7 separate regions of the Homo sapiens genome follow, and all the other regions are reported to be linked to region 1. Evidence: microRNA targets listed by miRTarBase, many of them from high-throughput screens and not tested one by one. Region 1 holds a microRNA gene; each other region holds the end of a gene's coding sequence.

Evidence for each region. The annotated mature microRNA hsa-miR-27b-3p reads UUCACAGUGGCUAAGUUCUGC and lies in region 1 at 2,487-2,507, opposite strand. An mRNA with a match to its seed (bases 2 to 7 or 8) in the 3' UTR can be bound and repressed. Matches are read on the target gene's strand: a 7mer-m8 pairs with bases 2 to 8, a 7mer-A1 pairs with bases 2 to 7 and ends in A, and an 8mer does both.
Region 2: the mRNA of DDX17 is a reported target of hsa-miR-27b-3p. Seed matches in the 3' UTR shown: 7mer-A1 at 2,742-2,748.
Region 3: miRTarBase lists WDFY1 as a target of hsa-miR-27b-3p. Seed matches in the 3' UTR shown: 7mer-m8 at 2,473-2,479.
Region 4: the mRNA of UTP14A is a reported target of hsa-miR-27b-3p. The part of its 3' UTR that is shown has no 7-base or 8-base seed match.
Region 5: miRTarBase lists TOPBP1 as a target of hsa-miR-27b-3p. Seed matches in the 3' UTR shown: 7mer-m8 at 496-502.
Region 6: the mRNA of GYS1 is a reported target of hsa-miR-27b-3p. Seed matches in the 3' UTR shown: 8mer at 1,123-1,130.
Region 7: miRTarBase lists ELMO1 as a target of hsa-miR-27b-3p. Seed matches in the 3' UTR shown: 7mer-m8 at 1,390-1,396.

Annotation. Positions count from the first base shown.
Region 1 is chr9:95,083,921-95,088,011 of GRCh38, reverse strand. It overlaps MIR27B (microRNA 27b), which reads right to left and starts at 2,567; the gene lies at 2,471-2,567. AOPEP (aminopeptidase O (putative)) reads right to left here. Exons shown (of 17, transcript NM_001193329.3): 17 at 853-1,330. It overlaps MIR23B (microRNA 23b), which reads right to left and starts at 2,804; the gene lies at 2,708-2,804. It overlaps MIR3074 (microRNA 3074), which reads left to right and starts at 1,918; the gene lies at 1,918-1,998. It also overlaps MIR24-1.
Region 2 is chr22:38,482,378-38,486,468 of GRCh38, forward strand. It overlaps DDX17 (DEAD-box helicase 17), which reads right to left. Exons shown (of 13, transcript NM_006386.5): 13 at 1,061-4,063. The coding sequence ends at 3,558. It overlaps KDELR3 (KDEL endoplasmic reticulum protein retention receptor 3), which reads left to right. Exons shown (of 5, transcript NM_006855.4): 5 at 119-1,070. The coding sequence ends at 159. Among named protein-coding and RNA genes, the nearest start is that of KDELR3, 16 kb to the left of the region's middle.
Region 3 is chr2:223,875,365-223,879,442 of GRCh38, forward strand. WDFY1 (WD repeat and FYVE domain containing 1) reads right to left here. Exons shown (of 12, transcript NM_020830.5): 12 at 1-3,366. The coding sequence ends at 3,307. Among named protein-coding and RNA genes, the nearest start is that of AP1S3, 40 kb to the left of the region's middle.
Region 4 is chrX:129,928,925-129,933,015 of GRCh38, forward strand. UTP14A (UTP14A small subunit processome component) reads left to right here. Exons shown (of 15, transcript NM_006649.4): 15 at 412-828. The coding sequence ends at 684. LOC105373335 (a long non-coding RNA gene) reads right to left here. Exons shown (of 3, transcript NR_188631.1): 2 at 834-971. Among named protein-coding and RNA genes, the nearest start is that of UTP14A, 25 kb to the left of the region's middle. RefSeq lists an enhancer at 2,319-2,438 and silencers at 2,679-2,918, 2,989-3,078, 3,159-3,238, 3,249-3,408, 3,439-3,908.
Region 5 is chr3:133,597,593-133,601,683 of GRCh38, reverse strand. It overlaps TOPBP1 (DNA topoisomerase II binding protein 1), which reads left to right. Exons shown (of 28, transcript NM_007027.4): 28 at 291-1,446. The coding sequence ends at 434. LOC124909437 (a long non-coding RNA gene) reads left to right here and starts at 2,607. Exons shown (of 2, transcript XR_007096110.1): 1 at 2,607-3,128; 2 at 3,222-3,509.
Region 6 is chr19:48,965,557-48,969,556 of GRCh38, reverse strand. GYS1 (glycogen synthase 1) reads left to right here. Exons shown (of 16, transcript NM_002103.5): 16 at 1-1,427. The coding sequence ends at 269. It overlaps FTL (ferritin light chain), which reads right to left. Exons shown (of 4, transcript NM_000146.4): 1 at 3,948-4,000; 2 at 3,641-3,787; 3 at 3,151-3,276; 4 at 2,678-2,974. The coding sequence ends at 2,822. Among named protein-coding and RNA genes, the nearest start is that of FTL, 2.2 kb to the right of the region's middle. RefSeq lists enhancers at 999-1,228, 3,959-4,000.
Region 7 is chr7:36,852,278-36,856,277 of GRCh38, reverse strand. It overlaps ELMO1 (engulfment and cell motility 1), which reads left to right. Exons shown (of 22, transcript NM_014800.11): 22 at 527-3,372. The coding sequence ends at 727. Among named protein-coding and RNA genes, the nearest start is that of MIR1200, 65 kb to the left of the region's middle. RefSeq lists an enhancer at 1,089-1,590.

The sequences.
Region 1 (4,091 bases):
GGACAAGAAAAGAGAGTTCTGGAGACCAAGGCCTCCCAGTCCAGAGCTTCTAATGAGATCCATGGTAGAGCCCCACTTCACCCCAAACAGGCCAGAATTTGTGCTGCCCCCTGGAGCCAGGCAGAGGAGACTGTGGGTGTGTTCAGGTGCACTCATGCTCAGCCCAACTTGGCACAGGGCCCATGGCTGCACCCGTTCCTACAGCCTTCTCCAGGCATTTTCAAACATTCTGCCCCATGGACAGTGCCAAGGAAGCTCAGTGCCCAGCTTCTGTCTATACCCTAAACCTTGTGGAGAAAGAAAAATCATACCACCAGACTCCCACGATGCCTGAATATGCCCAGGCTCTCCATTTTATCGGAAGAGGGTGCCCCACGCGCAGCCAAATTACTTTTGTTTTCAGGCTTCTAAGAGAACTAACACTACCTTGAAAACAACAAAGAAACTAGTGAGGTGGGGGGGGAACACCAGAATGTGGAGAATACCTTTTTCTTGTACGTGCTTTTTTTTTTTTTTTTTTTTTTTTTTTGAGATGGAGTCTTGCTCTGTCGCCCAGGCTGGAGTGCAGTGGCGCAATCTCGGCTCACTGCAACTGCCACCTCCTGGGTTCAAGCGATTCTCCTGCCTCAGTCTCCCGAGTAGCTGGGATTACAGGTGCCCACCACCACGCCCGCCTAATTTTTTGTATTTTAGTAGAGACAGGGTTTCACCATGTTAGCCAGGATGGTCTCGATCTCCTGACCTCGTGATCCACCCACCTCGGCCTCCCAAAGTGCTGGGATTATAGGCATGAGCCACCGCACCTGGCCTTTATTATTTTTAAACAGTATGAAATTTAGAAGCAAACACGTATACAAAAAAAAAATCCATTACATTTATTAATAATATATCTTAGATTCTCATCCTGTTCTTTTAAATGGCGCCCACTGGTCTCATACAGAGGAGCTGTGTGACTTTCTGGAATTATAGAAATATCCGCATCCAGCCATGTGCTGAGCAGACCAATGTAAAATGTTCAGCAGGTTTTCCAATGTCTCTTGGATATATTTAATCATCTCTGCAGAAGAACTCAAAATCTCAGAGCAGCTCCACTCCAGATCCAGGGCAGGAGGCAGCCTCCAGGGAGGGAGGCTGCGTTTACGAGAATCTGCCTTTTGTGTGTGCCTGGCTGGGACCAGCCTCTGGGAAAGAGAAGCACCAAGATGTGAACAGGGCTGTGGGCCGATGGCTTTAGCAGCCACATAATCCCTCCTTTGATGTCCAGGGTCAGTTCGAGCCTGGTCCCCCAGGCTAGGAGGAGACGAATGAAAGAATCTTGCTGTGGTCTTTCCTGCAAAGGAAACAGCAGTAACATTGATTACCCAGTCACCGGGAGGAATTCTTGTGAGCGCGCACCTCTGTGTGCCTTTGCTCTCCACTTTCAAGAGAGGACTTTAATCACAGGACAAGGAGAAGACCCAGGCCCATTTCAGTCTCCGGGACGGGTCACAGCGAGCCGTGTGACGCTGGCCTGCTCACACGTGGCCATGACACCAGCAGGCTGTACTCAGGCTTTGCGTACACAATAGCTGCTAGGAGTACCCATTTCAGACACGCACCCACTCTAACTGTTCTCAGAAAGTCTCAGCTCACCTCGCCGTGGGAGAGCTGGGCCCTGCCTCCCTTACACATGGGGGCAAACGGCCCCCTGCTGGCACTGTGTCCTGCCTTCAGGCCTGGGAGCTCTTAACTTTCTGCCAACAGGGTTTTCCAAGTCTACAAACCCCCACGCCGCAGGAGCACATGCAGATGACTGGCACCGTGCTGCCGCCGGGCCGGGGTGGACGCAGGGTGGACGCGGGCCTGTCTGCCGCGAGTGGGAGCCCCAGCTCTCCTGAGCCTCGGGCACTTACAGACACGAAGGCTTTTTGCTCAAGGGCTCGACTCCTGTTCCTGCTGAACTGAGCCAGTGTGTAAAATGAGAACTGATATCAGCTCAGTAGGCACCGGAGGGCGGGTCCAATCGACAGCCCGGAGAAGCAGCGCCTCAGCTGGGAGCTCCGTGGGCACCGTCTGCTGGCGCAGGAGACGCGAAGGCCTGGACTGCAAATACAAGAGAGAGTTCACCGCGCCCAGAACAACAGGAGCTCCTCCGAAAGCCCCGCCCCGCCCCGCTCACAGCCATGAGCTACCACATGATTTCACACGACTTAGGTGATGCATTTGGTTTTAGTTTTTTGTAAGAAGAATTTTTGCAACTTTCAATACATTTGACCTTTCAGACAGATGTCCGATTAGTGCATGTTTCTGTGGACAGACTTAAGGACTCAGTACATGGCTAGCATTCCCAGCAGGAGACAGTGCATCCTTGGGGTCAAGTGGTCTCTCATCCTCCAGGATCGCGCTCCGCACCCAAGCTGACTGTGCAGCAGCGGCCGGCCCGTCAGCAACGGCCTCTGCCCCAGCGGCTCCAACTTAACTGTCCCCATCTCACCTTCTCTTCAGGTGCAGAACTTAGCCACTGTGAACAAAGCGGAAACCAATCACTGTTCACCAATCAGCTAAGCTCTGCACCTTGTTAGAGAGGTCATCGCTGGGCATAAATAAAGGGACGGTGACCGGTGAGCATCTTCCTCAGCTGGTGGCTTCTTTTGTTTCCAAAGAAGAGCTACGAGATGCACCTGTTCTCCAATCTGCAGTGAGCGCGACCACGGTTTCTGGAGGAGCAGCCAAGGTCGTGGTTGCGTGGTAATCCCTGGCAATGTGATTTTAATCTTAAGTCACAAATCAGCATGCCAGGAACCCAAGCAGCCAGAGCACCTGAGAGCAGCGCCACCCCGTGCTGTCTGCACACACTGGGCTTCCGCGGAAGGACGCCGGCGACACTGCCGCCTTCACGCCTGTTATGCTAGCAAACAGGTGGAGTTTCTGTTTGTTGTTCGTTTAGTTGGCATCCTAGAGGTATAATTTCTTGAATCAAAGGGACTCCAGAGATGACCATAAAAATGCCAGTGCAGCTTTGGAACTGAAGAAAAATGCAGGGACCGGCCATGCGACACACACAATTGCTAAAGGCAGCTGTCCTTGCTATTAGTTTACTGCCTCTAACCCTTGGGGACAAGATCCCTTCTCTCCAGGCAGATTCTAGCTGCCCTGGGAAGGCTTTGGGGACTCTCAAGTCAGGAGGTCCCCCTGCTGGAAGGGGCCCTGGGACAATCCCGGCCACTGTTCCTCACGGGGACTGGTTGGGGGGCAGGCTTGCAACCCCTGGATGCATCTGGAGGGGTGGGGACAGGATCGAAGATGCTGGGGAGGGGGAAAAGGGAGACTTGTGACCAAGATGACTCCTTTGCCTGCCTGGGCAAAAATTCCCCATAAAGAGTGGCGAGGGGTGTGCCCTGTGGTGCTGCTCCAAAACCTGCACCAAAGGGAATGATGAAAGGACTAGCTGGCCTTGTAGTTTCACACACTTTAACACGTACGCCACGAAATAACAAAACGAAAGAGAAACACCATTTACACTGATTACTATTATGAGGCCGGCAGTGAGGTAAGTGCACAGTCTGTGTGCCGCCAGCCCGTCCTGGAGGGGAGCCGCGTCAAGTCTGCAGCAGGCGTTTCGCTACGAGACGCTCAGTCCCGTTTCCCTTTCCTGGCACACATGGTTCCTGACTCTTCTGGAAGAATATGATCATGCTTCTGAAAAACTTTTTATTTCTTTTCATTATTAGAGTTCTTTCAGATAAATAAGCTACTTAAACACGTTACACAGAAATGGTTTTCATAAGCACAAAACATTAGAAGAAAACTCAATGTTCAAAACTGAGTGAAGAATATCAACACCAAATATTCAATATCCATGAAAAATTATAGAGAAGCTATAACACGAAAAATGCTTCAGATTTGATAAAGTTTTTTTAAAGATACAAAATTAGACATCCCCTATTAATATCATATAAAACACTGAAGAAAAACGGAGCAGACACAGAAATAATGATGATTGTTAGAGAAAAAAAATCTCACAGCTATCCTAACAAAACCTTGTGTACTACCGCTAGGTTGCTTTAATAGTGTAGAAACCCATACTGAGCAACTAACTGCTAGGAAGTAAA
Region 2 (4,091 bases), not on the chromosome of region 1:
CAATCGAACATATACTGTGAGCCGGCCATTAAGAGATGATACCAAGATTATGCATCAAGTTATAAAGCAGTCCTTTCATCAGATGGTAAATTCTTATTTCATCTCCATTTTCTTCCAGTCCTTAAGGGAAAGAAGTTAAGTCTTCCAATGCCAATCTGAGGACCTTCAGAGACAGTCTACGCCTTAACAAGCACATGAAGGAAACTATTTTGAATGTTCTCTTTGGCAACTTATCCATAATTTGGGATCAAATGTTAAAACCAGAAAAGTGTTTAGTGTGGATTTCAGCAAAACCTGATCATCCCACCCAGAAGACCTTCTCATCAATAGATCGCCCTTAAAGACCCATTGTAAGGTCATAAAAAACCTCGGCCACCTGCACAAAGATGGTGCCTCACTGCAACAAGAAACCTTAAGGTGTCTTACCGACGAAATAAAAAACATAAATGATTGTTCTCCAAGGCCTGAGGGCAAGACTCATGATGAGCAAGTCAACCCCAATCTGGAACAATGTCCCTCCTCTTAGAATGTCCCAACTAAAGACCAGTTAAAATATTAGGGTACGTTCTTGTGAATTTCCACTTTCCAGGTAGATGACCAAATTTAGGTGGTCAAGATATAAAGGTGTCAGCTAGTTTTAAGTGTGAAACTTATTTCACTTTCACACTGCCTTCAGGCCAGAAGCAAACCAAATTTACCAGGTTTGGCTGGAGGAGTTTTGTGACTCATCTTTTACTGGTTTGAATTTTTTCAAACCAGTGGCTGATACCTGCCTTGTACTTAGTACCTTAATACCAATAACCTAATGGTACTTAGGCGAGTACCATTTGCACAATCACTGTTTTACTTATGAGCAGATACAGATATATCCAAACCCTTACCTACTAGGTATCCTGCTAGGGTTTTCAATTCCAATTCTTGTATTAAGTTTTTTCCTTTCAGTTTTAGGTGCGAAAGTAATCAGTCAATCCAATATCCCCCATCTTTGTCTTGAAACAAAAACTGTTTTAAGACGTCTACGTTGAATTATTCAGAGAATTAAGCAATAAAAGCTCACACCTTATTGTCAACAGTGTTTTTATTTATACCTACAAAAAGAAAACAAGATGATGGTATCAAAAGGACAATTTACAAACTAAGAATAGTAACATAGCTTTCAGCATCCTGTGCCTGAACATCACACATCTACAAGTCTTTCAAGTCTTAATGCAACAGGAATGTGTCTGGAGACCAGCAAGAACATCAATAGAGAGCACTGATCCCAAGCAAAAGCCACTAACCTTTTAGATGAGAAGTCCACACAACGAATTGTTAGGGAGGATTGGGGAGAAGCAGCCCATTGCTTAATACATTGGAACCCTTTCCCTAAGTTGAGTTTCAACCATGAATGCAATAACTAGCATAAAACGATTCTTCTGCTCATGTTCTGAAGCCAACAGCAGAACCTGAATTATAAGTGACAGACATGGAGGCAGAAGAGTTAAACTCTGCTAGATTTCAGCTGTGCTCAGGCCATAATAGTTTTTGAGGTTTGGAATTTACTGTTATTTTATGATTACAATGTCCCAGGTGGAAAAAGGGAAGCAAGCAATCCAAATAACCACTTGCTTGCCCAGAGACCTTTCCCTCAAACAGATGCTTTCAAGAGCTGCGAGAGAGTAGGGCATCCCTTGTGGTGGTACCTCTATGTTTAAAGAAAGAAGAAAAAAACCCAGAATTTGGTTGTAGAAAACAATGCCCACAACAGACTGGCCAGTGCTTAGACAAATTTGGGGTTGGGGGGAACACTTTGGTTTGAAAGCACAGAGCAGTTTGCCATGTTTCTTCTGTGCCTACCATTCTCCCTTGGCCTCAACTTCTGTAAGATGGGGGGGGGACAAAAAGAGAAGTAAAGTTAAGAAGAAAGTGGAAAATTAAAAAAAAAGATGTCAAAGTTTTTACATGCATATATTTCAGCTTATGCTGAAGACCTACCTGTATGTTGCACATTGAATCATACTTTCAGAACCCCTCAGAAACCATCCCTCTCTCCCTAAAGAATTTTAAAAGGAAAACAAAACCTCGAGTATAGATCTTACAGATGAGCAAGCATTCAGGCCTTAGCCAAAGAATGCAGTGGAGCCTTCCCCCTTCAACTGCATTGTGAATGAATACCAATTAACAGCATAAAAATTAATAGTCCCATATCAGATCTGGAAGGGGTTTCTGGGGCTGTCTGATGTCCCTATCCTGTTGTAGTGAACACAATAGCAGAAAATTCTTTCTGGGTCCATCTGCTATAAAGTCTTGGTAAAACAGCATTACCATGAAGAGGATGAACTCACCTACCTTCAGATGGAGGAAAAGTGAAAAGGACTTAGGCTTTAGTCCTCCATGACTTTTCTTAAGCACTACCTACCTGTAATAAGCTGAGTGCAAAAGGATGCCGAAGAAAATCTGCACCCAGAAGCTGTTAGAAAGCACTGCAGAGAACAGGGTATGAAGAAAATAAAGAGTTCTTAATAAACCCTTAAGATTCTTTGTTCAAGGTAACTTTGCCAAAAGGGCAGAGTAGGTGGCAAAGAGTTGCTTTTAATCTAGCTCTACACTGCATTTGAAAATAAAATTTGCCCATTTTGAATATATTGTTTATAATTAAATGTGCTTTTTACACTGCAGGTCAATATAAAAACTGGTTAGTAAATTTCCAGCGAGCATTTATGTTCATTTGCTCACAGCAGCTGTCTGGATGGAAAATTAATTTCACAGATGGTCCCCAGTTAAACTGGGAAGAAATATAGGCAGCTTCCACCCAGATGCTGAGATGCTACAGTTTAACCACTACAATAAACACTTGTGGTTTTTAATTTAAAGGATACACAAAACTCAGCAATTCAATTTCTAGCCTGACACTAAAATGGTTATTTTTCAGTAACGGGGGGAGAAGTGGGGAGGCAGAGTGTGAAGGGAAATAAAACCAATTAGTAATTTTTAACTATCAAATGCACTCCAGCAATCAGTCAAAACAGGCCCGAGGAAACCTGTTCCAACTTAAGAAACATTTAAAAGCACAAAAGAAAATGTGCAGGGCAATCCCTCTTTGTTTTCTAACCCAGTAATGAGAAATTTAAAGCACAGATGCCATCTTCCTCTGCAAAACAATTCAGCCCTCCCCCTCCCTCCCTCCCCACCAACTCAGAAAAACAAAACATGGGGCTCCCACAAAAGGGCCTAATACCTTACTCTTTTAGATGAAAAATAGCTCAAATATCTTCAACATGCAAGAAGTTGGGGGAAGAAATTAATCTCTTCCAGTCAGCTATATATATATATATATATTTTTTTTTTTTTTACAAAATGTTATTCCAGACTGGATCATTTTGGTGGGCAGAAGAAACCTGGCAGTGAATTCTAACTAATCTGCATGAAAAGACAAATCACGATGGTTGGGGGGAAAAATTAAAAAAAAAAAAAGAAAAAAGGAAAAAAAAAGAAAAGGCGAAGAGGAAAAAAAAAGGAAAGACAGTGTTCCTTAAAATGTAATTAAGTCTGCTGGAGTCACTACCACTTGAGTGGTTTCATTTACGTGAAGGAGGAGGAGGGGGAGGAGGAGGAGGGTATTGGTAGGCAGTCTGCCCCATGTAACCTATCATATTGGTAGCTCCCGGAGGCTGTGCAAACTGTTGTGACATCAGTGGCTGTGGCTGCTGCCCAGACCGGCCTATCCCACTAAACTGCTGGCTAGAGCTCTGTGAACTTCTCCCAGTTGAGGTGGTGCTACTAGCTCCATAAGTGCCAGCACCATATTCTTGAGCTGTATAGCTACTGGTGCCATAAGCAGCTGCCCCATAGGTGCCTTGACCATAGGTGTATTGGCCTGCTTGTGCTCCAAAGGCAGAATTTGGACTTCCATAGCCACTGCCATTAGCATAACCAGCTCTATCGGTTTCACTACGATCCCGATAGCTTGCAGAGTCTCTCCGGCCACCATCCTTGACTCCTCGAAGCCTTCGGTCACACTCATCCTGATACATCAGATTGGGATTGTTGGCTGAAGAAGTGGTCCGGTAACGAGAACGACCACCTAATGGGAAGATACAAGAAGATTTTTA
Region 3 (4,078 bases), not on the chromosome of region 1:
TTTATTGTGTACATTTTCTCAAAAAAAAAAACCCACAAAAACAGAACCCACAAATAGGAGCAAAGAACAGTTTTCTAGCATCTCTGGGATACACAGGGCACCATATCTTATAGAAACATAGCTAGTACAAGAACAAAGTGTACTAATTAACATTACCCCTTGCTTCCCCAGTCAAAAAAGGCTATAGAGAAAAACACTTTAAATTGTACTCTAATACAAATTTGTTGCACAATTAAACTTCAACTTACTCAAAGAGTTATTGTATTGTAAACTGCAGAAAATAGAATAGGCATTCAATAAATCTGCTCACAATTAACAATTAAGCAATAGACACTTGAATAAATATAGCATGTATTACTTATTTGTTAAGCCTTACACTTACGATGAGCAGATGGTTTATCACTATATAGTAACAGATTTTTTTTACACTTTAGGAGATACCATATCCAATAACGGAAGTAGAAGTACTTTAACGAAAACTGATTTTAGAAAAATATCTCCTTGGGTCTGAGCTACTATGGTATTTATTACATATTTGGGTCAGTTTCACCAGTTTAAAAATATAGGTACTAACAAACTGAATTCTTTCATGGGAGAACAAAGTAATACATTCTAGAGCAATAGTATTTCTTTATATCCTTTAGGTAGCAGGACAGAGCTAGGACATAGTAAAGAGATTTACGATGTAATGAATAATTTGTTTCTACCTAATGCTATAGGGGTATTGCTATCATTTGAACTAAGAAAGAACAATTTTAAAACTTGTTTATAATGAAGAATCGGCATTTCCTTACCACATATATACTAGATGTAAATATAAGGATCTTCTCTAATAGTCTGTATTCCTTAATCCCTATCTGTACAAATTAGCCTGCATATTCAGGAATGGAACAACCAGTAAACTGTTACTTGAAGAACTAATTTAAATGATCCATTTAAGAGAAATGCAGTCAAAATAAGGCAATAACCATCAGCCTATCTGTACTTTTCTTCTGTGCCTACTCAGTAAAATTGAGAAAATAATTTTTGCCCACTTCTATAAAAATATCACCCCATTTGCTACCTAGCATATGAGAGAGACAAGACTAGCCTGTCACGTTTGTCTCTAAAAAGAAAAATGATAGGCCTGGTGGAGAGCAAGCTATATGGAAACATCAGCCTTTCCTTTTCTAAGATACGTCACTCCAATTCTTCCTTAAATATAAACTTCCTCCTTGATTTATATTAACCCCTTAGGAGGCACTATAATAACTTTATGTTCCCATGGAACATAGGGTTTTTCAAGAATTTCTTAAAATAAAAAAGGTTTGAAAGCTATGGAGTAAACTCAGCAGCTGTGATATTCCGTTCAATCTACCACAGATGTCAAACGGTCACATTTTACAGAAGTCAAAGGAAAACAAAACCACAGTTCTGCACTCTTCCACAGGGCAAGGAATTGATCATATTCTATTTTCCTTTCAGGAATTCATAAAATCCCTAGGATAGCACCTTTGTATGGGCTGAACCATTAACTGAACTAAAATTAATACAGGAAGCTTAACATTCAACATTGTGCTTGAACAAAACTTACCACTACTCAATTTTTCTTCCAAACTATGTTAGTAATATACATTTTGCAAAGAGTCTAGAAAGTTTTTAAAAGAAATCTCTTTAGGTGATGTAACACGAAAACTCTAAGGAACAACAAAACCCTTCAGTCTTATTTCTGAAGACAAGTCTATGTTTAATGCAGATCATTCCAGTACATGATGTGCGTGACCCCCTTTCCTTTCCTTACGTGTGTCACACAGCCATTAAGACATTTTAGTTTGATCGCCTCCTTAAACCTTTCAGTCCCTCTAAGACATCATTATAAAACAAATTTAGTCCTTTAGTTTTATCATATGGAATGACCCTATTGTCCTGGTATGATCCCAACACAGTGATGCAGTACTGAGGTTTTTTTTTTTTAATCAATATCTATTAGTAAGATTAGCAAAGATACTGTTGCTATTTTTATATTTGTCCTTTAAAAAGGTAGGCCCTTCTCCACTTACTTCCATATCCCTAGAGAAATAGATATATGTACTGTTGTCAAAAAAAATCAAACACACAAATACTGGAATATTAAAAGACAGGCTCCTCATTTCTTCTCTTCCTCATCCTGGTACACAGTGCCCAAAAGCTTTAGAAATGCCATTATGAACAATAGCTTTTGCTAGTTGTTAGGAAAGCAATTTATGAGTTGGGAATTATTGTGGAAGACTTGATGGATGATTATAGCTCTGGGTCACTAACTTCTTTTTATGAAAACATGAATAATACTAGTTATAACTCAAAGTCAAAATAGTGTAAAAGCTGTGGAGTGCTTTTGTAGGGGGTATATTAAATTGCCAGAATATTGCAGAGGCTCATCTTGGAACAAGAAGTAGAATGCTGTTTCAGTTAAGAGGACTGGGCTGTTTCAGGCAACAGACTGATCATTTCGCATCACAGTGGTGGCTGGGTTTTCCATCAGTCATTACTAATGGCAATGAGAAAAAGTCAGGCGGCTTGTGTGACTCCCATGTTAACAGCACCATAAAAAAGTTTTGCCCTAGGAATTTGGGGGAAAGGGAAGAATGCGGACTGCCTTTGTTATTACAGAAATTTCACAACTTACTTAATGACAACCCCGAAAGTTCACCTGTGGCATACTGGCTGGGAAGAGAAACAACTGAAGCAAGCCAATGCTAAGTGCAGATTATGGCACTACCTGAAAATAACAGATCTCTTTAAGAAGTTTATCAATAACTAAGTGTAGAGGATATTCACATACTGCCAAGTCATAGGGAAAGGTCTCTGGTTTCGTAAGTTCCTAATGCCACCCCTCAAGAAAGAGAGAACAAGTCTTCCCTCCCCCAGCTCCTGCTCTGACAACAGCCACAAGAACCCTGGAAGGCCCCCTAGGCTAAGTGAAGTGTCTGTACTTGTGACTGCTTTGAGAAGGTTCTAAGCATTCACTTTTTTGTTTGATTTTTTGTCCCCGCTAAAACTCATTTGCTAGCTCATTCTTTCACTACACATTAGCTGTTCATGGGGAAGTTTTGCTGAAGTAATTCCAGTCTTCAGGGAACCACTATGGACAGACCTTTTCCATATTAGTCCCCATGGGTAAGTTCCACAAATGCCCCAAAACACACCTTTACATTTTCTTTTTAAAAATGTTGATTTGTTTGTAAGTGGCTACTGTCCATTCACGAGACAGCGCTGTGGAGCTGCGTGAGAGGGACTTCATTTGGTGGAGCTGCTGTTCTTAGGTGTGGACGCCGCCCAGCTCTCAGATCAGTGCGGAGAAAACCCAGTCGCCAGACTGCAGCCCACCACAGGTGTCATGTCCCAGATCTACAAGGAAGGAAGAAACGCAGAAAAGGCAGCAGTGATAACCAGGTCTAACGGCAAGAGTCAACACAGACAAACAAACGACTGTTAAACCTGAAAAGGTGTCAAATTAATGAATTTTCTCATTCTCCTCTTTCATAACACCTCCTTAAGATTTATAGAAAGAGGCCAGGTGGCTGGGCACGGTGGCTCACGCCTGTAATCCCAACACTTTGGGAGACCGAGGCGGGTGTAGCACTTGAGCCCAGGAGTTCAAGACCAGCCTGGCCAACGTGGCAAAACCTTGTCTCTACCAAAAAAAATACAGAAATTAGCCTGGTGTGGTGGCACATGCCTGTGGTCCCAGCCACTCAAGAGGCTGAGGTGGGAGGATCACCTGAGCCCAGAAGGCAGAGGTTGCACTGAACCGAGGTCACACCACTACACTACAGTCTGGGTGACAGAGCGAGACCTTGTCTCAAACAAAAAGATTTTCAGAAAGATAAAACAATGTAGTTCACTAAAATGTGAATAAAGCATATAGGTAGTGTCTTTACACATAAAAATTAAATCATAATAATGTTTTAGTATAAATTCAATTTTTTTTTTAGAAAAGCCCATCAGGAATATAGAATATCTCAGTTTCACCACTGAAGAGTGGTACTTAGGCCATGCATGGTGGATCATGCCTATAATCCCAGTACTTTGGGAGCCTGAGATGGGAGGATCGCTTGAG
Region 4 (4,091 bases), not on the chromosome of region 1:
CTAGATAGGGACAGTGTCACTTGTAATCCCAGCTACTTGGTAGGCAGAGGTTGCAGTGAGCAGAGATCACCCCACTGCACTCCAGCCTGGGCCACAGAGTGAGACTCTGTCTCAAAAAAAAGAAAAACAAAGATGGGCAGTGTCAGGGTGGTTTTTCAGACCCTGAATTGTTGAATAGATGGGGGATCCAGAGCCAACTCAGGCCCCCCTACTCCCAAATGTCATCAAACAGATTGAATTCCTAAGGGCAGATGGGAGCAATGGGACGCCTTGACCTCTCAGTCTCTTCACTTGCAGTCATCATGTGGAACCGTGGCCTGTACCAAAACAGTACCTGATGAAAGCTGCCATTACAGTATACAACTGCACCCCAGGCCTGCCTCATACCAAATCATTCTCCTTCCTTTCCAGGTACGAGTGCTTCCATATCCATTTACCCACCATTGGCAATTTGAAAGGACCATCCAGACCCCCATAGGATCCACATGGAACACCCAGAGGGCTTTCCAAAAGCTGACTACTCCCAAGGTCGTCACCAAGCCAGGCCATATCATTAACCCCATAAAAGCAGAAGACGTGGGCTACCGGTCTTCCTCAAGGTCGGACCTGTCTGTCATACAGAGGAATCCAAAACGAATCACCACACGTCACAAAAAACAGCTGAAGAAATGCTCTGTAGATTGAGTTGCTGGAGGAGTGACAGCCAGGAGCCCTGACTTCACTTCCTTTGGTCCAGTTTTACTCTGATACAGGGTGGATTCCAAAACTGGCTCAGTACATTGCATGTAGTTAAGCCACATTTTAAAAATAAAGGCATTTTTTAATCTATTTACCTGGAGTATATGTTGCATTGTCCCCCAGTGGGATCATTTCGTTCAAGTCAGACACCTTTGGACTCTACAGCATTGCATTTCTCGAGTTGCACTTGTCAGGGCCACCTCCTTTTCTTACCAAGGATTATGTAGTTGGTCCTAAATCGAAATGGAGAAAGTTAACTGTAGTCTGTAACCTTAAATATATCACATCAGATATGATCCACCATTAATAACTGCCAACTTGAAGAGACAGGGTTAATAATGATAAAATATTGTATATTTTAACCTCTGAACCTAGAAAGAGGATGTACAAACTGCAATTGGATTCTGCCCTAGACTGATCCTAAGACCAGGACGGTGCCGAAGCTGGGTTCTGTCCCCACAAGTCTAGCCACAGCCATTTTTTTCACATGTGTGAGCTTCCCAGCTTGTACAGGCTGCTGTCTACAATATCTCATATATAACCTTCTACTTATTTTCTCATAAGAAGACCAGGAGGTTTGACCCTTATTTTGTAGATAAAGGTAGATGTGATTTCAGAAGTAAACCTCTATTGCCTTTCCTTCCTAACTCAGGGCCCACTCCTCACCATTGATTGAAAGTGTAGTTTATTCAAGCATTGCTTTGCTATATGACAGTTCACATGGGCTTCTCAGCTCTGAGGAACTTGGCCTGGCTTTGGATGGCAAGAAATATACGGAAAGAGCCCCTGCAGCTGAGTTTCCTAACAAGGAATTTGGGAAACCCCTCTGATTCCAAAATGACACCACTACTGCACCTTGCCTCCTACCTTGGAGATTCAGTCCTATCCCCAGTATTCTTAGACCACAGTGGGTTCATTTTTGTGTCACAGGCCCCTCTAAAAATATGTTGAACGTTATGAACCGTCTCCAGAAAAATGTGCACACACACACATTTGTATGGCATTTTACATACAGTTTCAGGGGTTTTCAAGACATTTGGAATCCCTGGGCCAAAAGCTGTACCACTCCAAGTTTTCTTTTGCAATCCCCCCAACAGATACGGCCTTCTGAGCACACCACTCTCCAAATCAGTTCCAAAACGTTTAGACCTCAATGGTAGCTAGTCCCAGTTATCTTTATAAGAGAAAATTTTCAGAATAGAGCGTGCATCTAGTGTTACACATTAAACTGAAGTGAAAAGCCAAAGGATAAATTTATATGAATTCCCCAGTGGGGTCCCCTGTGGCCCCCTACTATTGCTCATCCTCTTAAGAAACAACCTGGGACTGGGAAGGTAAGGGAAATGAGTATGTTGAGCAGTGTTCAGTGCCCAAAAGGCATGCTTAAGTATCCATTGGCTTGAGATTATCCACGATCCACTCGCTGGTTGACACTTAAGTCAGTAGCCAGTGGTAGGGGATGCGGGAGCCCTGCCCACTCCTGCCTCCGTTTAAGAGACCACAACATTCTCTTGCACTCTTTTGAGCACAAAGCTGCTACCTCCGTCCCACCCACCCCCCAAATTGAGGCGCCCAATCAAGTGTCCCCGGTAAATGGCCAATCCCCGTCTACTTTCCCCGGACCCTCTTCAGCTCCGTTTGCTCCCCACTACCCAGGAGTGATGCAAGCCACCCCATCCTTCAAAGGAGAAGGCAGGTGCCAGAGCGTGCTATAAACGACGCCCATTCCCAGCCTTCCAAGCCCCCAAACAGATTCGATTGTTGTTTCGTGGGGCTTTTTTTTCTTTTCTTCCTCCGAACCTCCGAAGTGTTCTCCCTTCCCATTGGCCGAAGCTGCCCCTTGACGCCACCCTGGCCTTGCTCGCTGATTGGTCCACTCTGGATGTGCCCAAGCCTTTTTCCCAGGGTGTGGCGCCCCCCCGCCCCCAACAGGGTTCTGACCCCTGGCTCCTCCCTTCCCCCCAAGCCCCCCTCTCTGTTCCGAATGGTTCCGCCCTGGCTCGGCTCCCCCACGGCCCAGGCCGCTGCCCTTAGGGCCCCCGGACGGGGCGGGGCACGCTGGGGACGGGCAGAGGGCGGTGGTGGCGCCTTCCTGCCGAGTCCGAGGCCGCCCCCGCCACCCTTCTCTAATCCTTGTAGGTCCCACTTTCCCCTGGGCAGTTCTCCTCCTGCATCGGTAGCCCCGTCCCGTCTGTGCAGCCCCCACCGTGGTCTTTGGGTCATCTCGAAGAGCTGCGTTAAATCCCTGCCCTCAGCGCTGCACACACGCCCATCCGCCTCCACCCTCGGGTCCCCGCACCACCCCCTTTTCCCGTGTCGGCTCCCCCTTCCCCTCCCGAGACCGCGGAAGCTCCGACCCCCTTCCCTCGCTGACTGTCCATCCCCAGGACCCCCGTCCCTGTGTGTGGCCAGTCCCAGCGGCCTCTCCTTCGCGGCCTCCCTTCGCCTTCGTGGCCAGCGTGGTGGAGCACTCCCGCCCCCCTTTTCTCCGTACCCCCGCGCTCCCTTATGTTGTCCCTTCTTGTCCCTCTCTAAGTCCCTCCCACACTATGCCCCCCCGCGGTACACACACACCCCTCCCCGCGAGGCGTCCCCCGGCGCCCCTCCCCTACCCCCGCTCGTCTATGCCCCTCCCACCCACCCCGTCCTTTTGTCTCCTCTTTGGTCTCTAAGTCCCCCGCCCCTCCCTCGCTCCCGCCCTCACTCCCCCGAGCACGCTCTTATCTTCCCCAGGTCCCAGCGCCCCGCCCCGCGGCCGCGCCCCGCGGCCCCCTCCCTTCCGCGGCCCCGTCTCCGCCCTCCGCGCTCCGCCCTCCCCCCCGCGGCTCCTGCCCGCCAGCCCGGCCGGCCTCCGGTTCCCGGGTCGCTCCTCCTGCGGCAGCCGCCGCTCCCCGACCCACCCTTCCCGGGCCGGCGGCTCGCGTTCCCGCGCGGTCTCCCCACACACGCACTCCCGCCGCCCCGCTCCGCTCGCTCGCTCGCCGAGGCCCTGCAGCGGCCCGGCCCAGCGCAGCGCGCAGCCCGCAGCCCGTCCTCGGGGAGCCTCGGCGCCCCGTGGCCGCAGGCACCTCGCGGACAGGCGGGCTGGCGGCCCGGGAGCGCGAACCCGAGCCGGGCTGGGTGTCCCTCGCCCAGCCTGGCCCTCGGAAGCCTCGCGGGGCGCAGGGGCCCGTCGGAAATGTTTGGGGGACGGGCCGGCCGCGGTTCCTCCCGCAGCCCAGGCCGGGCCGGCGCGTCCCGGGGAGTCGCCGCGACCTTATCTCCGAGGATGACTTGATCCGGAGCCTCCTCCCGGCTCCCGCCCCAAACCTGTGCCACCAACGCGCGAAGCGCAGCTGAGACTCGCGGCTGGC
Region 5 (4,091 bases), not on the chromosome of region 1:
TTATTTTATCTCAAAAATGGGGATTAAAAACACCGATATGAAATGTTTGTAAGATCTGAGCTAGTCCCACTCTACCTGAACCATACACGTATTTCTTTGATAAAAGGTGAGACTTTGTCCCACAGGGTCCATTTTGTTTAATTTGCTGGAACCTAGGAATGAATATGCGTTTTCCTTTAAGTTTGTCAGATTCATCCCTGAGAGGTCTGAGATTTAAAGAAAAAATCTATTACCAGATCACGTAAATGTTTGAAATCATTTTAAAAAATCACTTATTTTTCCTTTTATAGGAATCACCTCCTCATGTAGAAAATTACTGTCTACCAGAAGCTATTTCATTTATTCAGAATAATAAGGAACTTGGGACTGGATTATCACAAAAGAGGAAAGCTCCTACAGAAAAAAATAAAATCAAACGACCTAGAGTACACTAATCGCATCTACCCTTTAGTTACCAAACATTAAATGTTTTTAAAAATTGAAAGCCTGAATGTGACTGTGATAGATTTGGGTAGTAATTTAAAGATGAGTACCTGAAGAATTCTGCTTCAGAGTATAATGATGACCCTTCTTGAGTTTTGAACACCTGAAATTGTAATCACTGAAATATTAACTGTTTCTTAATAAAAAGTTACCTGAAATAACAACAAAATACAACTCCTCAGCTAGCTTGCTGTTAAACCACATTGAAGTCTGTTAAAAGATATTTATTTTTCTTGTAAATATCTGAAGCTGTAGCTTAGTGGAAATTTTAGCAAGGTAATGGATTTTGCTTTAAAATGTCTGCCTTACAAATTCATAACAACAAGATTTGTCAGTCAGCATTTATTCATGTTTTCCCTGATTTTTATCTTCTCACCATTTTACCTCTTTTAACAGGAGCCTGAGCACAAGGTTTAATGAGGAAGCTGGGGCTATAAATATGTGTGTATATATGTATATGTATGTTTGTACAAATCTCCATGATGTTTGCCAAGTTTGAATGCGCAAAACTTGGAAAATGTGACAATAAAGAATAAAAGTAGTAACTCAAATTAGTATTAAGATGTGTTTACATAGATAAATTTTTTAAAAGAGCACCCTGGCATCTGTTCTTCTGTTGAAGCAACAAAACATTTATGTAACGTAAAAAATGAATTGCAGGGGCCTGGGTGCGGTGGCTCGTGCCTGTAATCCCAGCACTTTGGGAGGCTGAGGCAGGCGGATCGTCTGAGGTCGGGAGTTTGAGACCAGCCTGACCAACATGGAGAAACCTCATCTGTACTAAAAATACAAAAAATTAGCCCAGTGTGGTGGCACATGCCTGTAATCCCAGCTACTCAGGAGGCTGAGGCAGGAGAATCGCTTGAACCCGGGAGGCGGAGGTTGCGGTGAGCTGAGATCGCGCCATTGCACTCCAGCCTGGGCAACAAGAGCGAAACTCCATCTCAAAAAAAAAAAAAAAAAGAATTGCAGGCCAGGCACGGTGGCTCATGCTTGTAATCCCACCACTTTGGGAGGCCAAGGTGGGTGGACTGCTTGAACCCAGAAGTTCAAGACCAGCCTGGACAACATGGCGAAACCCCATCTCTGCAAAAAATAGCAAAAAATTAGCCGGGCATGCTGTTTGATGCTTGTAGTCCCAGCTACTTGGGAGGCTGAGGCATGAGAATTACTTGAACTCAGGAGGCAGAGGTTGCAGTGAGCTGAAATCATGCCACTGCAACTCCAGCCTGGGTGACAGAATGAGACCCTGTCTCAAAAAAAATAAATGAATTGCTTAACATTTCTGATATTTGTTATTTAGAATATTGCCCTATTAGATTAAAACATACTGTTATTGGAACTCTGTATTGCATTAGCCTTTATTATGCTAAACCTAAACACCTAATACTACATGCGTTACCAGAATTCTCTATAAATACACCTAATTTCATTTTAAGGACAAACTAGAATCCGTTAGGAATGTAATTTTGATGTAAACCGTTCAATTCCAAATGACTTTTTGAAAGGCAGATTCAAACAGTGAAGGAGAGAGTGCTCAACTTGGACACAAAATCCCTTAAATTTTCATCAGATTTTCTTCAAAATGGAGTTGAGGGTATCCCTGCTGCTAGAGGATTGGTCCTACAGGGTTTTCAGCTTTGAGCTAGTTCACAGCTTAGGACAATACAAATTCTACACAGAGAAATAGGTAGCATTATGATGTAAACTGTCCCCCTCCCACCAAACAAAAACCACATGGGCCTGTCTTTATCAGAGCTATTTTATTTTAGCTGAATCATTTTGTAGATTGTAGTACGTTTCCCTGAATTTTATTACTCAGAATCCTTTGAAATAGGCCAGGCACAGTGGCTCACACTTGTAATCCCAGCACTTTGGGAGGCCAAGGTGGGCAGATTACTTTAGGTCAGGAGTTCGAGACCAGCCTGGCCAACATGACGAAACTCCATCTCTACTAAAAATACCAAAATTAGCCAGGTGTGCCGGCACGTGCCTGTAATCCCAGCTACATGGGAGGCTGAGGCAGGAGAATCACTTGAACCAGGAGGTGGAGGTTGCAGTGAGCCGAGATCGCACCACTGCACTCTAGCCTGGGTGACAGAGTGAGACTCCATCTCAAAAAAAAAAAAAAAAAAAATTCTTTGAAATAGTTACTTTTTAAATTACCTAATATACCACTTTCTTTTCTGCCAAAATTATGAATGGTTTTCCAGTTCAAACTTAGACACACAGTTTACCATTTAAGGCTCCAGGTCTCAGTTTCTCCTCCTAACTTTCCAGCATCTGCCCATACTCTGTATAAGCCACTTGAACTCTGGCTTTGGCTGTTAATCTGTAAATGTCCTAATGCCAGCAACAATATCCTCTTATATACAAATAATTCCAAGCATAGGTAGTCTTCTTGTTTAAAAAGGGGAGGGGGCAGAACTTGCCTTGATTAGATTAGTATGAGTTTCTTTTCTGAATGGCTACGATATTTTAATCTGTGATATTTAAATTATCACCTTATATCCCTCCACGAATTTTCCTGTGCATTAGTCTGATCTCACCAACATTCGTTAATTCAACAGGTAGGAATCCTCAACCTGTGCCTAGGATTCAGCAACAAACCACCTGGAACACATGGTCCCTTAGCACTTGAAGAGGTAGGAATCCTTACTGTAAATACAGTACTCAATTATACTCAGATTTAGTATTTACACTGTTAAGGACTGAGCTTGTCCCCCTAAAATTCACAGGTTAAAGCCTAACCTGCTATGTGACTGTAGACAGAGCCTTTATAAGGGGATTAAATGAGGTCATAAGAATGAGTCCCTAACCCACCAGGACTAGTGTCCTGGTAAGAAGAGGGAGGCACACCAGGAGTTTGCCGGCACGGAGGAAAAGCCCTGTGAGGACACGGGGAGGGCAGCTATCTGTTTACACACCAGGAAGAAATGTCTCACCAGATACCAACCCTGGCCGTCTCCTGGATTTTGGATTTCCAATCTCCAGAACTGTGAGAAAATAAATTTCTGTTTAAGCCACTCAGCTTGTGATGTTCCTTTGTGGCAGCCTGAGCAGACCAGTAACAATATTAACAGTAATAAGGTTCTTACTTTGGGGCCTGAGATGCCTGGGAATGGAACAGGCTGTTTTGTATATGAGCATTTTTAGGGTAGAGTTCATAATTCTAGAGTTTGGATCTGTGACTTTCCACCCAAAAGTCACAAACCACTGCTCTAATGCAAACCTATTATTTCACATTTACACCTCTCACCTAGAAGTGCTTTAATACAGGCTGCTTTGTATCAGGGCTTGGTTTCCTTCTGACCTTTCAAGACATAAAAATCATTACTAGCTTGAGGCCATGCAAAAATAAGCAGTGGGCCATAGTTGACTGTTCCTTATTTTCTATCCCTAAAAAGATTTTAAAATCTAGATCTGTCAACAAGCAAGGCACCCAGCTCAATTTTTTTTTTCTTTTGAGACGGAGCCTCGCTCTTGTTGCCCAGGCTGGAGTACAGTGGCATGATCTCAGCTCACTGCAACCTCTGCCTCCTGGGTTCAAGCCATGCTCCTGCCTCAGCCTCCTGAGTAGCTGGGATTACAGACGTGTGCCACCACGC
Region 6 (4,000 bases), not on the chromosome of region 1:
CACGACACTCCAGCCCGCACCAGAGTGAGGACGAGGAGGATCCCCGGAACGGGCCGCTGGAGGAAGACGGCGAGCGCTACGATGAGGACGAGGAGGCCGCCAAGGACCGGCGCAACATCCGTGCACCAGAGTGGCCGCGCCGAGCGTCCTGCACCTCCTCCACCAGCGGCAGCAAGCGCAACTCTGTGGACACGGCCACCTCCAGCTCACTCAGCACCCCGAGCGAGCCCCTCAGCCCCACCAGCTCCCTGGGCGAGGAGCGTAACTAAGTCCGCCCCACCACACTCCCCGCCTGTCCTGCCTCTCTGCTCCAGAGAGAGGATGCAGAGGGGTGCTGCTCCTAAACCCCCGCTCCAGATCTGCACTGGGTGTGGCCCCGCAGTGCCCCCACCCAGTCCGCCAAACACTCCACCCCCTCCAGCTCCAGTTTCCAAGTTCCTGCACTCCAGAATCCACAAAGCCGTGCCTTTCTCTGGCTCCAGAATATGCATAATCAGCGCCCTGGAGTCCCCTGGGCCTGGACCGCTTCCCAGAGGCCAGGAATCTGCCATTACTCTGCGGTGGTGCCAGAGGTTTTAGGAAACCTGGCATGGTGCTTTCAGGTCTGGGGCTTTTAGAGCCCCCCGTGTGGCTTACAAATTCTACAGCATACAGAGCAGGCCACGCTCAGGCCCGGCATGCGGGCCACCAAGTTCTGGAAACCACGTGGTGTCCCTGCGAATGGGGCGATCAAGTCCAGAGCCGGGGCACTTTCAGAGTTTGAAGGTAACTGAGAGCAGATGGTCCTCCATTTCAACTCCAGAAGTGGGGCTCTGGGAGGGATGTTCTAGCCCTCCCTGGCATGTCAGAGCCAGGCTCTGCCTGGAGGATCCCTCCATCCGGCTCCTGTCATCCCCTACACTTTGGCCAAGCAAGAGGTGGTAGAACCACTTGGCTGCTCATTCCTTCTGGAGGACACACAGTCTCAGTCCAGATGCCTTCCTGTCTTTCTGGCCCTTTCTGGACCAGATCCTACTCTTCCTTTCTAAATCTGAGATCTCCCTCCAGGGAATCCGCCTGCAGAGGACAGAGCTGGCTGTCTTCCCCCACCCCTAACCTGGCTTATTCCCAACTGCTCTGCCCACTGTGAAACCACTAGGTTCTAGGTCCTGGCTTCTAGATCTGGAACCTTACCACGTTACTGCATACTGATCCCTTTCCCATGATCCAGAACTGAGGTCACTGGGTTCTAGAACCCCCACATTTACCTCGAGGCTCTTCCATCCCCAAACTGTGCCCTGCCTTCAGCTTTGGTGAAAGGGAGGGCCCCTCATGTGTGCTGTGCTGTGTCTGCACCGCTTGGTTTGCAGTTGAGAGGGGAGGGCAGGAGGGGTGTGATTGGAGTGTGTCCGGAGATGAGATGAAAAAAATACATCTATATTTAAGAATCCCAGGTGTGGTCAGACATGACACTTGGTGGGCCTGGCTGTGACGTCCCCCCAGTACCACCCCTTCCCTGGTCTGAGCTCATCCTCTTATTCTAGAGAGACTTGGGGGGTCTCCCTATGTTGCTTAGGCTGGTCTCAACCTCCTGGGCTCAAGTGATCGTCCTGCCTTGGCCTCCCAAAGTGCTGGGATTACAGGCTTGAACCACCCTGCCCCAGACCCAGGGGAAGGAGAAGGGGAAGAGTCAGAGCTGACACAGCAGTTTTGCAGCTTGGACACAGCAAGTGCTTTTTAAGGCCTGTTTTAAGCTTCTTCAGTTCCCATTTGGAGAATCCGGCCCAAGGTTTCACATCCCATTTCTGTGATGAACCCTAAACCCCTTGTCCAGCATTGCTTGGGCATCACGTGTTCCTGGCTGCTCAGCTCCACTGGCCAGTTCCTCTCAGTGTGCGCCTCACATTGGGATCACTCAAGCTCGGGCCATAATCTCTTAAACTCTGGAGCAAAGACCTCAGTGAGCCCCCCGGTTGCCATGCAAGTTGCATAGCAATAGCGTCAATGTGCCCATATAAAGGGCCTAATAATTCCAACTGCCTCCCAGAATTGAGGCTTTTTTCTTTTTTGAGACAGAGTCTTACTCTGTTGCCCAAGCTGGAGCACAGTGGCGCCATCTCAGCTCACCGCAACTTCCGTGAGGCAGACATGTTTTTTGTTTGAGATGGGAGTTCCACTCTTTTTGCCCAGGCTGGAGTGCAATGACGCCATCTCAGCTCACTGCAACCTCCGCCTCCCAGATTCAAGCGATTCTCCTACCTCAACCTCCTGACTAGCTGGGATTACAGGTATGAGCCACCACACCCAGCTAATTTTGTATTTTAGTAGAGACGGGGTTTCTTCATGTTGGTCAGGCTGGTCTCGAACTCCTGACATCAGGTGAGCGACCCACCTGGCCCCATAATCACTCGTTAAATAGGGCTGTTTCTGGCTGAGACCTAACATCTGTTTCTAGATACCAACCTAGGTCTTAATTCAACTCCCTGGAGTCTATCTCTACCATCTGGGAGGGACAGTTAACAGCCAGGCAAGCAGAGAACCCTCAGGTTCAACACTACCCAGATAGCCTCTTGTCTTAGGACAGTTAAGAAAATGGGAGATGGGGCCAACTCCTCTTTCACTGGCATCCCAACCCAGCCAGAAGCTTTATGAGAACAGATCCCACCTCATCTTCCACACCACACACAAAACCACCAGCTGCATCAAAAAGCTTTATTTCCATTTGGTCCAAGGCTTGTTAGGATAGTTAAGAAAGCTGCCTATTGGCTGGAGGGAGAGGCTTAGGCAGAAGCCCTATTACTTTGCAAGGGGCCCTTCAGAAGTCGCTGGGCTCAGAAGGCTCTTAGTCGTGCTTGAGAGTGAGCCTTTCGAAGAGATACTCGCCCAGCCCAGCCTCCGGGCCACCCAGCCTGTGGAGGTTGGTCAGGTGGTCACCCATCTTCTTGATAAGCTTCACTTCCTCATCTAGGAAGTGAGTCTCCAGGAAGTCACAGAGCTGAGAGAGAAGAGGGAGAAATTAGAAACCCAATCCCTGGAAAAGAGGGGGAGAGAGCAGCCAGTTGCAGATTAAAATGTGACAGGTGTGAAATGAGGCTCTGAAGGAAATTTGCCCAAAGGGAGCAGAGGCTTGAGGGGTATGGTTGGGTAGCCATGGATGCAGCGGGTACGTACATGGGGGTCCGTGCGGGCAGAACCCAGGGCATGAAGATCCAAAAGGGCCTGGTTCAGCTTTTTCTCCAGGGCCATGGCAGCTTTCATGGCGTCTGGGGTTTTACCCCACTCATCTTCAGCTGGCTTCTATATAGAAGGGAGAAATGGCTCAGAATACACACACTCGGCACATAGAACTAAACCTACATTTCCCAAGAGTCGTTGGGGGTCAGAGGCCCAGGCCACAAAGACATGTGACAGCTTGTATTTATCACTCTCCGCACCCTGTCCTAGCTCTTACAGCTATACGTCCCTAAGACCACGCAGCGGTGTGGACTGCCGCGTGTTGTGGGCACTGCACGAGGTGCGCCTCTATTTCCAGCGGTTAAGAGGGCTCACAAGACCGAACTCAATCTCCCAGAAGCCCACGCGACACCTACGCCCTCAAATCAAGGCTCCTCGCGCGCACGGCCTGCTGGGAGATGTAGTCCATTACCCACACACTAGTTACCTTGATGTCCTGGAAGAGAGCGCGGCCGCCACGCTGGTTTTGCATCTTCAGGAGACGCTCGTAGCCCTCGCGCTTCTCCTCGGCCAATTCGCGGAAGAAGTGGCTCACGCCTTCCAGAGCCACATCATCGCGGTCGAAATAGAAGCCCTACGGGAAGAGATGGAGGCAACAATGGTTAGCGGGAGGCGAGGCCAAGGGGACTCCGCCCTCTGTTTACCCGACCGCACAAAGAAGGCTGGCGCGTGCAGTGAGGGCCGGAGGTGCGCAGCTGGAGGAAATTAGGGCCAGGGGCGTCCTGGGGACTCACCAGAGAGAGGTAGGTGTAGGAGGCCTGCAGGTACAAATTGACCAGGCTGTTGA
Region 7 (4,000 bases), not on the chromosome of region 1:
GCTCCAGGGTGGGACAGGGCTGTCATTGTGAATGCTAGGATCAGACAGGACAGGCCGAGATGAGCTACTAGACTAGGAGCCATGACTGGAGTCAGCAAAGAAACCTGCTTCACCTGATGTTGAGTCCAGGGCTGTTCGGTAGATTCCACCAGTACCTAAAAGTCATAGACTCCCACCTAGGTGTTACATTGCAAGTCATGGAGAACTCCAATCCTCAGCTGTTACAGAGAAGCATTCTTTGCAAAGAAGAGCACAGGCACTGGAGTCAGATTGCCTGGGTTCAAATCCCACCCGGTCTACATAATACTGAGTCACTTCTCTGTACCTCAGTTCCTTCACCTATAAAACAGAGATAACAGAAGTATCGACTTTATATTGAGATGTCGCCAAATATGAAATGACGAAGTAGGCAGAGCCCTTAGCGCACAGCCTACTGAGGGATGAGTATTCACTGTTAGCTATTTTTACTATTAATACTTCTGTAATTGCCACCAGTAATGATCGCTGTTGCCTCCCTTCCTGCCAGTACTGTATCTGGACGGATGGACTGAATGCGCTACTCGGGAAGGACATGATGAGCGACCTGACGCGGAATGACCTGGACACCCTGCTCAGCATGGAAATCAAGCTCCGCCTCCTGGACCTGGAAAACATCCAGATCCCTGACGCACCTCCGCCGATTCCCAAGGAGCCCAGCAACTATGACTTCGTCTATGACTGTAACTGAAGTGGCCGGGCCCAGACATGCCCCTTCCAAAACTGGAACACCTAGCTAACAGGAGAGAGGAATGAAAACACACCCACGCCTTGGAACCGTCCTTTGGTAAAGGGAAGCTGTGGGTCCACATTCCCTTCAGCATCACCTCTAGCCCTGGCAACTTTCAGCCCCTAGCTGGCATCTTGCTCACCGCCCTGATTCTGTTCCTCGGCTCCACTGCTTCAGGTCACTTCCCATGGCTGCAGTCCACTGGTGGGACAAGAGCAAAGCCCACTGCCAGTAAGAAGGCCAAAGGGCCCTTCCATCCTAGCCCTCTGCAGGCATGCCCTTCCTTCCCTTGGGCAGGAAAGCCAGCAGCCCCAGACTGCCCAAAAACTTGCCCACCAGACCAAGGGCAGTGCCCCAAGGCCCCTGTCTGGAGGAAATGGCCTAGCTATTTGATGAGAAGACCAAACCCCACATCCTCCTTTCCCCTCTCTCTAGAATCATCTCGCACCACCAGTTACACTTGAATTAAGATCTGCGCTCAAATCTCCTCCCACCTCTCTCCCTGCTTTTGCCTTGCTCTGTTCCTCTTTGGTCCCAAGAGCAGCAGCCGCAGCCTCCTCGTGATCCTCCCTAGCATAAATTTCCCAAACAGTCCACAGGTCCCATGCCCACTTTGCGTCTGCACTGTGATCGTGACAAATCTTCCCTCCTCACCAGCTAGTCTGGGGTTTCCTCTCCCTGCCCCAGGCCAGAACTGCCTTCTTCATTTCCACCCACGCTCCCAGCCTCTTAGCTGAAAGCACAAATGGTGAAATCAGTAGTCTCGCTCCATCTCTAATAGACTAAACCTAAATGCCTCTAGGACGGACTGTTGCTATCCAAGCGTTTGGTGTTACCTTCTCCTGGGAGGTCCTGCTGCAACTCAAGTTCCACAGGATGGTCAAGCTGTCAGACATCCAAGTTTACATCATTGTAATTATTACTGGTATTTACAATTTGCAAGAGTTTTGGGTTAGTTTTTTTTTTTTTTTTTGCTTTGTTTTTGTACAAAAGAGTCTAACATTTTTTGCCAAACAGATATATATTTAATGAAAAGAAGAGATACATAAATGTGTGAATTTCCAGTTTTTTTTTAATTATTTTAATCCCAAACATCTTCCTGAAAATAACATTCCCTTAAACATGCTGTGGAATAAAATGGATTGTGATGATTTGGGGAGCTGGTGTTTTGATTTAGTAACTTAGGTTCTTGCTACTCAGTCATCAGCATCACCTGGGAGCTTGTTGGAGATGCCAGCTCTTCAGCTCCACCCTAGACCTGCTGAATTGGGTGATGTTTATGTACATTGGTTTGAAAAACACTGCTGTGGGAAACCCTCCACCATTGCTAGGTCACCATAGGCTCTGAGCATCAGTGGAGAATGTTACTTCTAAGAAGACCATCTCGACTCACTGAGAAAATCAGACCCACTGTATGAAAATATCTATTCCTTTTACATTGCTGTCTCTTGACCATGACTTTCTCTTTTTTCTTTCTTACCATGATATAATTTATAGAATGGGTCTAATTAAAGACATCACAACTTTGAGGGAGCACATTTAGCAATGAAAAGAATGCATACCCACAGACCTGAAATAAGCCAGAACTAAATAAATCTAACCGTGGGTTAATAAATTATAGGTCAGAGCCCAGCGAAGGATGTTTCTTAAGTCATTTGCACTGGAGGCATTATCAGGATTGTAAACTCCCAGCACTGGGAGGGATGTCAGAAGGGTCCAAGCATGCAGTATTAAGCGTGGCACAGCACCAGCCACTCTGGCCTCACAGCACAAGCTGTGGAAGCATCCAGGTCATTTCTCTTTACCGTCATCAGGATGTGCAATTACAGATTGACCTGGGTTGAGATGATATGGTCCAGAGCACTGCATGCATTGCAGGAAAAAAGTCCTTTGCATTCACAGGGGTTCCTTCTTCCCATCAGAGCACTCACACCTGTGTCAAGCTGTTAATTCCTTGATCATTAAGCTTCGATGTTATTAACATGTACTTGCTATCAGGAGCAGTTATTAATCTACCCATCATCATGATAAAACAGTAAGTGTTAGGTCAAAGGCAGCAAACAAAGTCATATTATTTTTTTCTTATGGGTTACAAGATCCAATCCATGAAAAAGGGAACTTTCTGGACCAGGATCTCTGAGGTCCTGAGACACTGGGTTTAAGAAATGTATCTGTCCTGTGACCTTGGTTGGGGAGATCCAGCCCCTCTCTCTTCTGGCACTCCAGCTTTGGTGCATTTAATAGAAAGAAACCTTTTCAGGACTATGAAAGGCAGCATTCTCCAGCTCCTCCCTAGACCCTCCTTTGGACCTGTGAGATCTGAAGAGTATGCCATCTGTTTCCATTCATTTTGTGACCATGTGGGGAAGGATTGTTGCCCATATTTGGCCACCTCACCTTCTCTCTCCAGGCTGCCCAAGGCTTTTTTTCCCATGCAATGAGCCTACCACCTCCAACTCATCTCCTGTTGCCTGCAGTTTCCTAAGCCTGGGCAACTCAGCCAAATCCAAGGCAGAAGTAAAGTAGGAAGACTGATGTTGTCGTGAAGTCCAAGTTGCATTCTGCTATTCATATTACTCAAAATAAAACTGATTACTTAATTTGAATCTGCTGATGTTTAAATTCCTCTCTTATTCTTGTTCAGAACACATAAGAGGAAGGAGAATTAACTGGCCTCTGAAACCTCTGTGACAACATTTAAGGGCAGGGAAAGCTAATAGTAATTGCAAAAGAAAAAGTGCAAGGCTGAATGTTTCTTGAGTCTATTTGCAAGTCCGTTCTAAGCCATCCTTCAGTTATCACCTACAGCATGTCCTGTCCACCTGCTTTTACAATGAACAAAGCAATGGGTGTCCCCAATGACATGCATACCAGTCATCCATTTTGTTTTAGTTATGAAAATACAATTAACACAATCCTTTCATTTTAAGGGGAAATGAAATATCCATTCAATAATCAAAAGTGTGCTTAGAGATAGGCCCTAGGAACTCAACAAGAACAAAATTTGTAAAATTGAGATTTGTAAAAATGAGAACAAAATTCATCAAATCAGGGAAATGACAAGCAACTTAGTCAAATATAAAACCGAAAAGTTGCAGCACAGTGTGGTAAATAGCATTATATAAATATGTACAAGGTAGAATAGTAGAAAGGAGGTTGTGACCAACACTTTCCAAAATGGTATAAGGGAAAGCAAGAGAGGAGTAGAAACTTGAGTAAGATCTTGAAAAAGGG